Homo sapiens: one gene and its partner. The protein of the gene in region 1 interacts with the protein of each later gene in a pairwise test. Each region holds a gene or a part of one and is shown on either strand. Other genes may lie near its edges.

Evidence for each region.
Region 2: the proteins of ACBD5 (region 1) and ALDH3A2 come close enough for resonance energy transfer, tested with the Homo sapiens proteins (one large-scale study listed by BioGRID).

What each region holds. Positions count from the first base shown.
Region 1 is NC_000010.11:27,220,298-27,223,797, forward strand, and holds part of ACBD5 (acyl-CoA-binding domain-containing protein 5), read right to left. Parts: intron 3,156-3,500; coding exon 3,041-3,155; intron 2,943-3,040; coding exon of another isoform or gene 2,910-2,942; intron 1-2,909. UniProt on the Homo sapiens protein: Acyl-CoA binding protein which acts as the peroxisome receptor for pexophagy but is dispensable for aggrephagy and nonselective autophagy. Binds medium- and long-chain acyl-CoA esters.
Region 2 is NC_000017.11:19,655,251-19,658,750, forward strand, and holds part of ALDH3A2 (aldehyde dehydrogenase family 3 member A2), read left to right. Parts: intron 1-28; exon of another isoform or gene 29-137; intron 138-1,115; coding exon 1,116-1,324; intron 1,325-2,494; coding exon 2,495-2,612; intron 2,613-3,500.

The DNA of each region.
Region 1 (3,500 bases):
ACAACTCACATTATCTGTCTTTATGATATTTAAGTTTTTTTCTTAAAGTATCCATTAATGTGATCAATCACTTACAAAAGCAAATTGTCCAAGTGGCCAAAGCTATATCCCGAGGGTAAATACATCAGAGCTTCTCAACTTTAATGTGCATACAAATCTTCTGAGAGCTATTTAAGATGCAGATTCTGAATTAGTATGTCTAGGGTGATCTAAGATTCCAAATTTCTATAAAGATCACATTTGTTACCAATGCTGTTGGTTACTGGACACTGTTTTGAGAACATGGATTGAAAGACAATATTTTTGAGGTAACAATACTCCCCAAAATGATCTGCAAATTCACTGCAATCTGTATCAAAATCCAAGCTGGCATTTCTGCAAAAATTGACATGCAGATTCTAAAATTCATATGAAAATGTGAGGGATCAAGATTAGCCAAAACAATCTTGAAAAATAACAAAATTGGAGGACTCATCATTCCTGATTTCAAAACTTACTGTATATGTATATTCTGAAAATGGCAATGTAAAACTGATACATCTGTTCTATTGGACCTAAATGGCTACTTTTAAGGAAATGCTTTGTTTAGAAAAAAAAAGGCAAGACTGCAAACTGTTTTGCAATTTGGTAATATCTTACAAAATTACAAACATCAAACATTTCTAACTCCATTTCTAATATTTCTTACAGATATGCTTTCACATATGTGAAATGACAAATGTACGTGGTTATTCTCAGCAGTATTTTCTGAAGATCAAAGGAGTAAATAACCTAAATGTCCACCAGAATGGCTCAGGTTAAAAAAATTATGGTGCAGGTCCACAATCCCTTACTTACAACCCTTGGATCCAGATACATTTTGAAATCTCAAGTTTTCTAATTTTGCAAAGGTTATATGGTACATATGCCATTTGGTATATTATGTAACACATCCAATAGAGTCTAAGGCAGCTCTCACTAAAAAGAGAATGTGATTTTTGCAGCAAAACATATAAATAGTTACATTAAAGAGGAAAGAGACTCAAAATACCCTCGTTTTACTTCAGGTCAGGTTTTACTCCCCAGATTTTTAGTTCATATCAGACAGGTTTTGCTGCCAAATGAGTTTACCAAAAAACTTCTGGTCTTCAAAGATTTTTAAAATTGTAAGTTATAGCTAGGTAGCTGTGAGCCTGCACCTTTATTACTATTATTTACTCTTCTTTGTTTTATAATTAGCTGTTTAAATATCTGCCTCTGGCCAGTGGCTGGACACCACAGCAGCAGATCCAGATTTATTTCCCTCTGCATCCCAACATGCCTGACATACATAAAACATTTAATTTTTTTTTTCTGGCAGGGTACAATTGCTCATGCCTTTAATTCCAGTGCTTTGGGAAGCTGAGTTGGGAGGATTACCTGAGGTCAGGAGTTCGAGATCAGCCTGGCCCACATGGCAAAACCCTGGCTCTACTAAAAATACAAAAATTAGCCATACAAGAATACAAGTGTACACTTGTAATCCCAGCTACCTGGGAGGCTAAGTCAGGAGAATTGCTTGAACCCAGGAGTTGGAGGTTGCAGTGAGTCAAGATGGGACCACTGCACTCCAGTCAGTGTGACAGAGGAAGACTCCATCTCAAAAAAAAAAAAAAAAAAAAAAGAAAAGAAGAAAACATTTAGTTTTTTCTCTGAATTGAATAAGCATGCCTTATAAGAAGGACTACTTGTTAATATTTGACTTCTGTAAGCAAATCAGATGTAGAATGATGTGGTAGAGTTATGCCCAGTAAGCAGTCAGTACTACTTGCACGTGGTTTATGACCGTGACAAGGACCGATTTCAGCACAGGAAGATTACTATTCTGAAATGCTGCCATTATTGTCAATTATTAAAAGATGTCTTATAAATAGGGATGTCAAGGGAAAAAAAGGGGATGCCAGGCGATTTTTATTTAAAGGGTATATAATTTTCTCTTAAATTGACTCTTGTGGTCTCATTTCACTCTGCTTTCTAAAAAAAATTCAAGATCAAATGTTTAGTTAATACCAACAAATCTCCCATTTTATTCAACTCCTACAAGTATGCAAAACACAACCCTTTCAATCCTTTGTGTACATGAAGACAAAATTCTAAAAAAAAAAAAAAAATAGAAGTTGTAATCCATGCAGAGATGCTTGAACCAAAATAAAGAAAAAAGAAAACAAGCTAAATGAATTAACTGTCTTGCATTAGCTTATATGCTATAGTTAAACCACACCCTAAACACATCTATTTTTAATTTCTTTTTTTGTTTGTTTTTTTCTTTTTTTGAGACAGCATCTCACTCTGTTGCTCAGGCCGGAGTGCAGCAGAGTGATCTCGTCTCACTGCAAACTTTGCCTCCTGGGTTCAAGTGATTCTTGTGCCTCAGCCTCCCAAGTAGCTGGGATCACAGGCGTGTGCCACCATGCCTGGCTAATTTTTGTGTTTTTTGTAGAGACGGGGTTTCACCAAGTTGGCAAGTCTGGTCTTGAACTCCTGACCTCAAGGTGATCTGCCCGCTTTCGCTTCCCAAAGTGCTGGGATTACAGGCATGAGCCACCACACCTGGCCAACATATCCATTTTAAAATTAGCTAGTAAATCATTGAATTCAAAGTACTATTAACGTAATTCTCAAAGCAAAATAGAAAACATGACCTATCAAAATAAAACCATGAATTCTGCTATAATTTCGAATATACTAAGTAAACTACCTGGTGTATTTTAATAGCTTACCACTTAAGGGTTAAAATTTTAAGGGTTTATAATGTTTTGGAACTTCATATAATGTGTTTGCCTGGAATGAAAACTCCTGGGTGACAAGATTGTAAGTTCTGTAAGTTTGTGCAGAATTCTTTTGACATGTAAATTTTAAACAAAACTTTTACATGATTTCATGATTCCTACCTTCTAAACATTTAGAGATTTTCTCCAGTCGGACTGGCGCGTGAAAGTAAGAAAAAAAATCAGAGATACAAATATTAATATGTGCATAATATATCAGTTGATGAATTTAAAAATAGGTAAAATAGTCCAACCTGAGGTTATATCAGAACTCCTGCCACTCTTTTTGTCCTCGACAATTTCATAAAATGGACCTATGACACGCAGCAATTCTTCAACTTTCTCAGTCATTGGCATAGTTTCAATAATCTGTAATCAAAAGAAACAAATATTGTGAAATCACAAACTCTTAATTTGATCTCCACTAATATCAAATAATCTCCTATTTCCAATTTGTCAATAATTTTAATATTTGACATTCATAATAGACTCTCTGAAGGATCTACATTAATTACATACTTAATGTATACACACTGTGGCCGGGCTAAGTGGTGGCTCATGCCTGTAATCCCAGCACTTTGGGAGGCCAAGGCAGGAGGATGGCTTGAGCCCAGAAGTTTGAGACCAGCCTTGGCAACACAGTGAGACCCTGTCTCTTAAAAATTTTTTAAAAAACATTAACCAGGCACGGTGGTGTGTGTCTGTGGTCCCAGC
Region 2 (3,500 bases), on another chromosome or scaffold:
CTTGGAATGATATTTTTCTCTTTGTTAGAGCCATTTTGTTCTAATAGCTGTGATGATCCAATCAAGAAAGATGAAATGGAAGACAGTGAGATGTCAAGGATTGAATAGGACGTAGAACCAGAAGATAGAGGTTGAAGGTACCGCTTTGCCCCTGACCAGGGGTAAATTCTTCAATAACTGACTCTGTCCGGATAAGGAGGATAATAATGCTCTACCAGCTTCAGTTACCGTGTTAGGGGATCAATAATATATGCTATGTAGATTAAGCCATAGAAAAGTTAAAGCTTGAAACATTTGTTGGGCAGCTGAACCATGAAGTGAATGAAATTAATTCGCCTTCAAGTGGAAACATGAGATCCACAAGCCAGCTTTTACTTCACACTTCCACCTTGGAGTCTTGAATACCTCTCTGTCTTCCTTGCTTGCCATCTGTTCTCTTACTTTTGATGCTGTTATTGTCCAAGATGTTCTCTCTTAGAATAGCTGGTAATGATAGCACAATGCATAGATGGGCTCAGTCCACAGAAGCTACGTGAATTCTCCCAGTAACAGATGAGGAAATTGAGGCTCAGAGATGTTCAGTAGCTTGCCTAAGGTTGCATAAGCTAGTGAGTGGCAGAGCCCAGATTCAAACCAGATACACTTCAAAAGCAAGCGCTCTCAGCTACTGTGCCGGATATACCATTCATTCAGAATAGCGTGGGCTAAGCCCACTCTGTGTTGTGAGACAGAGAACATTCAGACTAAGACATGCATGACCTGTCCTGTGGGAGCCACTCTTCACCAGAGGCACTTCTGCACACACCCGCGTCTCATGCATTTTCCCTGGTCAAATTCAACCATTTGTTCTCCTTAGTGTCTTTGTTGCTGAGCTCATGTAAAAAAACACTGGAGTCTCCAGATTAGTTCTATGTGGGTTCATGCTTCCCAGATGCCATCGGACTGTGTGTTCTCCTCTTGTCCTTGGTCAGTTCCCTCTCCCATCCCTCACAGGGACTGGTCTTGACACTCTCTGGGTTTTACTGAATGTTACATGTTTATGTTGAAGAGATTGCTGATGTTAGACGTTAGGATTTATTTGGCAGTGCAAGAGTTTGTGTTTCTCTTTCTTTGAGGATCTCTATATTGTTATTAATGGTGGTGTTGAGGAAACCACGGAGCTCCTGAAGCAGCGATTTGACCACATTTTCTATACGGGAAACACTGCGGTTGGCAAAATTGTCATGGAAGCTGCTGCCAAGCATCTGACCCCTGTGACTCTTGAACTGGGAGGGAAAAGTCCATGTTATATTGATAAAGATTGTGACCTGGACATTGTTTGCAGGTGAGTCTGGCTCTCTGATTTTCTGAGGTTTTCCCAGCACAATGGAGACTTTTCCTGACAATGTTACTCTTTGTACTTGAACCCCATACCTTATGGCTCCAAGATACATTATTAAGCTTTGGTGGTTGATGTCCTCAAGAGTAACAGGAGTCTTTCACTGTCTCTTGGCGCCACTGTCAAAAATGGTGAGCTGTAAGTCCTGACATCATGTGGTTGTCCTTAGGAATTTTAAAAAAGTTATATCTGTTCTCAAGATTACAGCTAGATCTAGCAAGAAATTTTAACGTTCTTCTGGCCAGTGATCTGTGAAGTACATAATCCAAAGTATTGTGTGTGCCTAATAAAATCTTTAAATGCCCATTTGAGAGGGTATTATGCTGATATCTTAACTGAGATCCTTTGTGGGCAAAACAAGTGTTCCTCATTTTTTAACTGTGAATAACATCTTGCATCTGAAAATTAGAAAATAAGAGGTTTCAGGTTCTCTCTGCTAAATCCGGTTTAGCTACTAAGAAGTGCCAAATCATAGAACTGACTCTGTGCTCTGGGTGGTGTGGCTTTCTCTGCCCTTCAGAGATTCCAGGTCAGGGTTCCAGGTTGGCTTCCTAAGTAGAAATCCATTTGTCAAAACCAGACACCCTCAGTTAGTGAATGTTTAGGGCATGGGTTTCTGCCCATGCATAGGAAAGGTCTTCCCAAGTGGGGCAGGGCTCCACAAAGAGGAGGATGGCCTTGGAGGCTGGCTGACATCCTGCTTTATACCTGAACATCTTGCAGGCAGAGCCAAAAGCCACAACCAGGAGAGTCTGTACCGAACTCTGGTCATCCAGGACTTTCCTTTGGCTGGACTGGAAGAGGGGAAAGGACATTGGGAGGCTGTTTCTCCTCTTTTCCTGCAGCAGGCAATGGCTTCACTGTTTACCAAGTACTGTTTGCCGTGAGCTGGCCTGAGAACTTCCCTGCTATGTAAAATATTCCACCTCATTTGGAAAATACTTTCTAAGTTCCAAACAACTGATTTAGAAATGAGTTTTTAACTTTTTTATAAAAATTGCCAGATAAATATATGAATCTATTTTAGTTGCAAGACATTCAAACAACACAATGTAACAAATGAATATTTGACTGAATTACTGAATTATATAGCTGTTCTGGATGTTTTCCCCTCAGACGCATAACCTGGGGAAAATACATGAATTGTGGCCAAACCTGCATTGCACCCGACTATATTCTCTGTGAAGCATCCCTCCAAAATCAAATTGTATGGAAGATTAAGGAAACAGTGAAGGTTTGTATTAAAAACATCTGATTCCACTGATTTTAATAAGATAAGGAGTCAAATTAACTATTCGCAGGCAGCATCCCCATTTGTTTCTCCCTTCAGGAAAATTTCAAAATCATATGTGACTCAGTGAACTTATTGACTAATATGAAAATGCTATGTGTACCATAGAATATATGCTGGGAGCAAGGTTGCATTGGTGTTAAATCTACTTAAACTGTCTAGTTGATTTGTTGATGATTAGTTGTGGCATATACTTTTTTTAAAAAAGTTAAATAATCGTGTGTCCGTGGTTTTGAGGGAATGTTGCCAACCCTTTAGGTATAATCAGAGAGACTCTTTGGCATATTGGCCATTGCTGCTGAAGGTTATCAGTTTTTGTGTATGTAGAGGGCCTAGGGTGGCCAGTAGTTTGGAGGAGTGACTTAATTAAATAACTACTTACAGTATACCCTTTATATAATTAACAATCTTTCAGCGTGTTTAAAGTAAATATTTGCAGTGAGGGAACCAAGGAAGACTGCATGTAGAGTCCTAAGCCAAGACTTGAAGAAATATAGGATTTAAGTTGGTAGAAAGGAATGGGGGCTGGGCACGGTGGCTTATGCCTGTAATCCCAGCACTTTGGGGGGCCTAGGGGGGCAGATCACTTGAGGTCAGAAGTTCAAGACCAGCCTGGCCAATATGGTGAAACCCTGTCTCTACTAAAAATACAAAAAAATCAGCCGGGGATGGTGGTGCATGTCTGTAATTCCAGCTACTCAGGAGGCTAAGGCACGAGATTTGCTTGAACCCTGGCAAGAATCGCTTGAACCCGGGAGGCAAAGGTTGCAGTGAGCCAAGATCACGCCACTGCACTCCAGCCTGGGCGACAGAGCAAGACTCTGTCTTTAA